Homo sapiens: one gene and its partner. The protein of the gene in region 1 purifies or fractionates together with the protein of each later gene. This does not show direct contact. Each region holds a gene or a part of one and is shown on either strand. Other genes may lie near its edges. The genes, in order: N4BP1 and OTUD7B.

Region 1 (3,814 bases):
CTGATGGGCAGCTGTGGTCAGTGAACTCCACACCTTAAAGGTTCATGGAGACGCCAAACAAGTAGCTGTGCCATTTACTTCCAATTACTTCTTTTATTTGTTAACCAGCCAGGCTTCACTGACTGTTAGCACCCAGTTTCTTGCTATGGACTTTGGTGACCCCAGCATAGCACTAGCTCCAGATACTTCACATTGCCATCTCCTCTACTTTCTCACTTCTCTAAGATGTATGGAACACTTGTAGCTCACCCACAACTACTGAGGCACCCCTTGGCCCTCAGAGTCATCCTCAGAATTCCTTTACATCCAAGATTCTAAGCTCCGAAATTACTCTGATTACAACCTCCAGAATTCTCCAATACTTAACTTCCCTGTGTACATGACCCCCTGGGTTTCAGAGGGCACAGGGTCAAAGGTCTTGTCCCTCCCTTAATCCTTGCAGCTCACTCCGCCCTTTCTGCTCTCATCTGTTTCCCTGTCCTAGCTTGAACAAGGCTGACCTCTTCAGAAATATTTCCTAAGCCCCACTGTGCCTTGCTCTATTGCACTTCAGACCCCCTTACCTCCAATCCTTGTGTCCTGGCTTCACAAACCTCTTGAGTGGAGGAAAACATTACCTACTTGAGAGTTTCTGGCTCAAGTGACACTGTAAGTTCATACTATCTAACCTTCCTTGGCCCTTACTTCATCCCAGTCCTTTTAAGTTCTTAAGTTTTCAGTCTGCAGCAGTTCCACTGCACCTAACACATCCCACTATTTTGGAGCTCTTGCGCTCCCTCTGGGGATGAACTAGCACTGAGACTGTACTGTACGCCACTGGGGCCTTCAAATGCCCTCTTCAAGTATTAGAAACATATGGGCTAGGCATGGTGGCTCATGCCTGTAATCCTAGCACTTTGGGATGCTGAGGTGGGAGGATCATTTGAGCTCGGGAATTCAAGATTAGCCAGGGCAGCATAGTGAGATGCCATCTCTACCAAAAATACAAAAATACACCATGGGCATGGTGGCACATGCCTGTAGTCCCAGCTACTCAGGAGGCCAAGAGGATCGCTTGAGCCTGGGAGGCAGAGGTTTCAGTAAGCTGAGATCATACCACTGCACTCCAACCTAGGGACCCTGTCTCAAAAAGGCAGTCCAAAGCTCAGGTCAAAAAAACAAAACAAACAAACAAAAAAAAACAAAAAAAGGTAAAAAAAAAAACAAAAACAAAAACTAAATTAAAACAAAACGAAACAAAGCTCAGGTCCACTGACATGTTTTGTTTAGCACATATAACTGTTTTTTTAAAATATGTAGTTTAAAAATATTTTATTCATATAATTCGATGAATTCGATGTGTATGATTTTTAAAATGTAAATTAGTGACCACTTAAATACAATATTTTATATAATTAAATCTGGATTCCTTGCTTCTCTTAGATAATAAGACTGGACATCACTGAGCCCTACCATGTAACTGACTAATGCGATACGCATGGGAAGCTGCCCTCTCCAAAAGGGCCACACGGCTTCATTCACCACAGTCCCTCTTCCCGACCACCCCACTTCCCTACACAGGTTCCCTGCCTGGTCCCAGGAAGCATTCTGAGTTTGTGGTTCTTTGATCTAAAAGAAGGGTTCTTTTTTTTTTTTTCTCAAGACAGAGTTTTGCTCTCGTTGCCCAGGCTGGAGTGCAATAGCGTGATCTTGGTTCACCGCAACCTCCGCTTCCCTGGTTCAAGCAATTCTCCTGCCTCAGCCTCCTGAGTAGCTGGGATTACATGCATGCGCCACCCCACCTGGCTAATTTTGTAATTTTAGTAGAGACAGGGTTTCTCCATGTTGGTGGGCTGGTCTCGAACTCCCGACCTCAGGTGATCAGACCACTCGGCATCCCAAAGTGTTGGGATTACACAGGCGTGAGCCACTGCGCCCGGCCTAAAAGAAGAATTCTAACTCGTCTCACCCCCACGGCTGAGATCCCCTCAACCTCATCCCTTTCCACCACTGCTTCACAGGGAGGGTCCCACCTCTGCTTCTTCACTTTAATCTCTATTTGCGAATGAGGCAACAGCTAGCCAGTACCTCCCTTTTGTCTCTGAAATTCAATCCTCACAATCCTTTGCTCCCAAGATGTCTTCCAGCACTGACTTCTTTCCCCTCTCTCTGGGCCCCCTATGGACAATGCCCTCTTATAAGGACTTCTCACTCTTAGACATTGCCTCTCTAGCCCCTGTATTAATGCCAAATTGCATAAAAGTTACTCAACCCTTATTTTCAATTTCTGTACTCTTACTATTGAAAACCAGCAACAGACCACACTGAGCAGCCCCAGCCCAGAGGTGTAAACACTGAGGCATTTGTGGAAATGTAAATTTCTCATGTCCCCCTAACTCTTCCACGACTCTCCACTGACTACTTGCAGGTAAAATCCATGTTCTTCAGCAGGCCCCAAGCACTTTGTGATCCACTGGAGGAATCTGTGATGCAACTGCCCTCTTCCATGCCCCTGTGATTGCACACAGCTTCTTCCCTCTGCCAGGACCTCCCTGCTACCTAGGAAACCGGCTGGCAGAGCAACCCTTCCATTCCTGTGTTACAGAAACACCTTGCACACATTGCAGTTGTTGTATGTATCACACTTTACTGTATCTTCCCCATGTCTGTCTCCCCTAAGAGGCAACGTGATTCTTGAGGTCAAGGGGCAACCGTCAATACACTCCCTGGCACCAGAGAAGTCTTCCTTAAATGTTGATGAGCTGGTGGCCCCACCAGTCAATAGGTCAAACAACTTAACCATCCCTCCTGCCACCTGGCTTAAAACCGACCCCTAAATCCCTACATCCACCACACAGCTGCCCTGTCCCTGTAAAAACCTTACCACCCCCTACCCCCTCATGCCCAAGGCTAACTTGCAACAATGTTCATTTCACTGTTGGTCTTCTGTTTCAGGAAGATTCCATGCTTCTCAAAATCCTCACTGACTATTAAATAAGGTCCAATGACCTTAGCCTGGCATTTTGGTACCTCAGCCTTCATCTTTCCCAGGAGCACCTGGACACCTTTTACCATGACACTCCATGTTTTCTGGGCCTTTGCTCCACAACCACCTCTGTCTGGAAGGTCAGGTACCTGGGAATATTTGGCTCTTCAAAAGCCAGCTGAAGTACTGCTTTCTACGACAAATCTTCCCTTTAACAAAAGTGGTCACTGGTACAGAGTCAGTGCCTGTTTTTCAACCTGCATGCGCACTATCACTGTCTACTAGTAGTTTCCATTTCGCCCCTCTGCAGTCATTGGAGGCCCACCTAACTAAGCTCCACATTCTTCTCTACTCTAGCATTTGCAAAAGGCAGTGAATTCACATTTTAAAGGCAAAACACAAGCAAACCACTTGGTGGGACACAAGACAGTTCATCTTATCTTATTTTGAGCAGAGACACTATAGTTGAAAAACTCTTCTTTGCTCTAAATCTTCCTTCCTCTAAATCTGCTGCTCTTCCACAGCCTAACTTAAAATATTATAGATGTTGGATCAAATTTGCTTTCCTGTTCTTAGTTTTTAAAATCAAAATAATGGTTTTCTCCTCCTTCAAGAAAGTAAAACAAACTCCAAAACAAATTCAGAACAAAAAAGCCCTGATTGTGGCATTCAACTCTTACCTATGAGTCTCAAGGGGAGAAAAAAAAGAATTTCTTACAAGTGGGAGGGTTGACTTATGAGTAATACATATCACAAAGATCAACAAGCAGGAGCACATACTAGCAAGAAACTGTAAGACACACCTTTCCCAAACAGCTTGGCTAAACTGTGTGGCAAGGACAGCCAAGA
Region 2 (3,814 bases), on another chromosome or scaffold:
CTCCTCAGCATCAGAAAGGTAGCGCTGGATCATTTCCTCCTGATACTGGTGACGGTGACCCATCTTCAGGGTTCCAACAAAAATAAACTTCCCCTCCCCTTGCATGGCAGTCCTCAGAATGCTCAGGCTCTGCATCACCTCCTGGCTATACTTGCTCCCTCCGTTACCAACAGACTCAGCTGGGGGCTTCTCAGACACAGGCCCATCCCCAGCTGCCTCCTCCTTGCCACCCTTCCAGCTCTTCAGTGAGTTTTTCTTCTTCTTCTCCAGTGTCTCAGTGCCGCTGCTTCCTCCCAACCCTGTCCCCACCCCTCCAGGCTTTGAACCCTTGCTGTGCATCAGGCCCCCCATGTTCTTCTTGAGCTTGCTGCCCAAGGTTTTGCCAAAGCTGCCCAGTTTGTTAGCCACAGAATCTGCTCTCTTCTTGTCCTTCTCCCGATCTCGCTTTGACTTCTCCTTCCGCCGGCCGCCCTCGTTGCTGGTGGAACTGCTGCCAACTGACTCCTTGTCTGAGTCTCCAGACTCAGGAGTGGACCGGGGCTCATCTCCAGCTGAGGCGGTGGGGGACTCAGGCTGGGCCAGAGGAGCCTGGAAGAGACAAGAACACTGTTGACAGTTATCCCAGCAGCCTGGGGTGGGGGAATCCCCCAGGGACCTCTAGCCCATCCATCTGGCTCAGGGAGCTCCCTGCAGCCATGGCTATAGAAATTAGCCAGGTAGAAAAGGATGGACACCTATGAACTCCGTCCTCTGAGTGATTGCCTAGTGACTGCCTTGCTCCAGAGAAGGGCTTCTGTCATGATGAGGGAAGGGTCACCCAGGATGGCACTGTCCTTCCTGGGTTCCAGTCAGTCAGCTTTCTCCCCCACTGCAATCTGACTCCCTTCTGTAATAAGGAGATAGTAGAATAAAGCCTTACTGTTCATTTAGAACAATGAGCAACCATATGATACGTGGCTTCCGGGTGAGAGGCCCAGACATTAGAATGTTCTTTATTATACATTTCTCTATGCCAAATTCTGCTCGAAACTAATCTCAAGAAAGTCTTGACTAATCAAAACTAACCAAGTCTAGCCACTTTGCATCCCCTCAACTTTTATACATTCTGCATTGGAGTTATCAATTTGACCCTACTCCTGTGCTCCTGTTCTAACTCAGAGCCCACTGAATTAGGAGCTCTTTAAGCTACTCCGTCTCCTAGTGCCCAAAACAGAGGTCTATCTACAGAAGACTTTGGACGAAATAATGATCATCTCAAGTTCAACAAACAGTCCAGAAAACCTTTCTTAAAGAATATGTTAAGCCAGGCACGGTGGCTCATGCCTGTAATCCCAGCACTTTGGGAGGCCGAGGTGGGTGGATCACCTGAGGTCGGGAGTTCCAGACCAGCCTGACCAACATGGAGAAACCCCATCTCTACTAAAAATACAAAATTAGCCGGACGTGGTGGTGCATGTCTGTAATCCCAGCTACTCAGGAGGCTGAGGCAGGAGAATCGCTTGAACCCAGGAGGCGGAGGTTGCAATAAGCTGAGATCGCACCATTGCACTCCAGCCTGGGCAAAAAGAGTGAAACTCCATCTCAAAGAAAAATAATAATAATAATAATAATATGTTTTAGGTCAGGCGCGGTGGCTCACGCCTGTAATCCCAGCACTTTCGGGGGCCAAGGCAGGCGGATCACAAGACCAGCCTGGCCAACATGGCGAAACCCCATCTCTACTAAAAATAGAAAAATTAGCTGGACATGGTGGCGGGCACCTGCAATCTCAGCTACTCGGGAGGCTGAGGCAGGAGAATCGCTTGAACCCAAGAGGTGGAGGTTGCAGTGAGCTGAGATCGTGTCATTGCACTCCAGCCTGGGCATCAAGAGCAAGATTCCGTCTCAAAAAATATATATATGTTTTAGTATCAGATAACAGAGACTGGCTGGAGAGGAGATGTGGAAAACAGGAGACTAACGGTTTTTAAAAAGCAGGAAAGGGCTGGGTGTGGTGGCTCATGCCTGTAATCCCAGAACTTTGGGAGGCCAAGGTGGGTGGATCACCTGAGGTCAGGAGTTCGAGACTAGCCTGGCCAACGTGGTGAAACTCCGTCTCTACTAAAAATACAAAAATCAGCCGGGTGTGGTGGCGCACGTCTGTAATCCCAGCTACTCGTGAGGCTGATGCAGGAGAATCACTTGAACCTGGGAAGTGGAGGTTGCTGTGAGCCAAGATTGTGCCACTGCATTTCAGCCTGGCTGACAGAGCAAGACTTCCTCTGAAAAAAAAAAAAAAAAAAAGGACAGGAAAGGCCAGGCGCGGTGGCTCACACTTGTAATCCCAGCACTGTGGGAGGCTGAGGCGGGCAGATCATCTGAGGTCAGGCATTCGAGACCAGCCTGGCCAACATGGTGAAACCTGTCCTCTACTAAAAATACAAAAATTAGCTGGGCGTGGTGGCGCATGCCTGTAATACCAGCTACTCAGGAGGCTGAGGCAGGAGAATCGCTTGAACCCAGGAGGCGGAGGTTGCAATGAGCCAAGATTGTGCCATTGCACTCCAGCCTGGGTGACAGAACAAGACTCCATCTCAAAAATAAAAATAAAAAATACAATAAAAACAGGAAAAATTGTCTTTGGAACTTATCTGACATCTTCTAGTTACTTCTAACCTTGAATTGTAAGCCACCACTCAGAATAGATTCAGAAGGAAACCATCCCAGATCTCCTTGTTCTGTCACTGAAAATGAAATGAAGACACACCAGGGTAGATGTGGGAGAAGTCTTCACCTGTGCATCAGAGGACAGTGGGATCCACTTCACATTCATGTAGCTATGCAGCAGATGCAATTTGACCTCTAGGGACAGAATTACACTATGAAAAAGAGAAAAAACAAATTACTGTCACCTTTTAAAAGCAAAGCAATTTGATATAGTTGGGAGAAAGGGTGGGAGAGGGCTACATGGCTTAGGACTCAAATAGGGTTGGGTTTGAACTATTTCTCCACCAATTAATAAGCTTTATGACCTTGAGCAAGTCACTTCAACCTCCCTGAAACTCAGCTGCAGCTGAGAATGGGTATAGATAATATCTATCCTGTAGGGTTGTTGTAAAGATTAAAACAGTGTTTGGAAAGAGCCCAGCACAGTGTCTGGAAAATGGGAAATACTAGATAGTAGCCATTATCATTGTTGTTGTTGTAAATATTATTTAGAAGGAGCTTTTGATAAATAGGTGAGAGGTTATTTTTAAAAAGCCATAAACTCTGGATTTTAAAATCAAACTCTCTTAGCTGGGACCCAGTGGCAGGAGCCCAGAGAGTGAAGCACTAGGTAAGTGCTAAGGGAGGAGCTTTTGCATTCATACACTCTCCATCAGGAAGTTGATGCAGGAGGCAGAAGGAAGGCTTAACAAGCCACAGGGAGGTAGAGTGGGGGCTGAGAGGGTAGGGAACATATTTTTCTTGCTATTAAATTCCAGAAAGGCAAAAACTCAGAGCAAACTATTTTTATCACGTATTTATTTATTTATTTTTTGGATGGAGTTTCACTCTTGTTGCCCATACTGGAGTGTAATGGTACCATCTCAGCTCACTGCAACCTCCGCCTCCTGGATTCAAGTTATTCTCCTGCCTCAGCCTCCCGAGTAGATGGGATTATAGACATGCACCACCACGCCTGGCTAATTTTGTATTTTTAGTAGAGATGTGGTTTCTCCATGTTGGCCAGGCTGGTCTCAAACTCCCGACCTCAGGTGATCTGCCTGCCTCGGTTGCCTGTTCACTCTGATGGTGGTTTCTCCCAACATGCTGGGATTACAGGCATAAGCCA

The links.
Region 2: the proteins of N4BP1 (region 1) and OTUD7B purify together in Homo sapiens (affinity purification with mass spectrometry, with the first as the bait; one large-scale study listed by BioGRID). This does not show direct contact.

The regions. Positions count from the first base shown.
Region 1 is NC_000016.10:48,603,411-48,607,224, forward strand, and holds part of N4BP1 (NEDD4-binding protein 1), read right to left. Parts: intron 1-3,814. UniProt on the Homo sapiens protein: Potent suppressor of cytokine production that acts as a regulator of innate immune signaling and inflammation.
Region 2 is NC_000001.11:149,944,478-149,948,291, forward strand, and holds part of OTUD7B (OTU domain-containing protein 7B), read right to left. Parts: intron 2,859-3,814; coding exon 2,774-2,858; coding exon of another isoform or gene 2,747-2,773; intron 589-2,746; coding exon 1-588. UniProt on the Homo sapiens protein: Negative regulator of the non-canonical NF-kappa-B pathway that acts by mediating deubiquitination of TRAF3, an inhibitor of the NF-kappa-B pathway, thereby acting as a negative regulator of B-cell responses.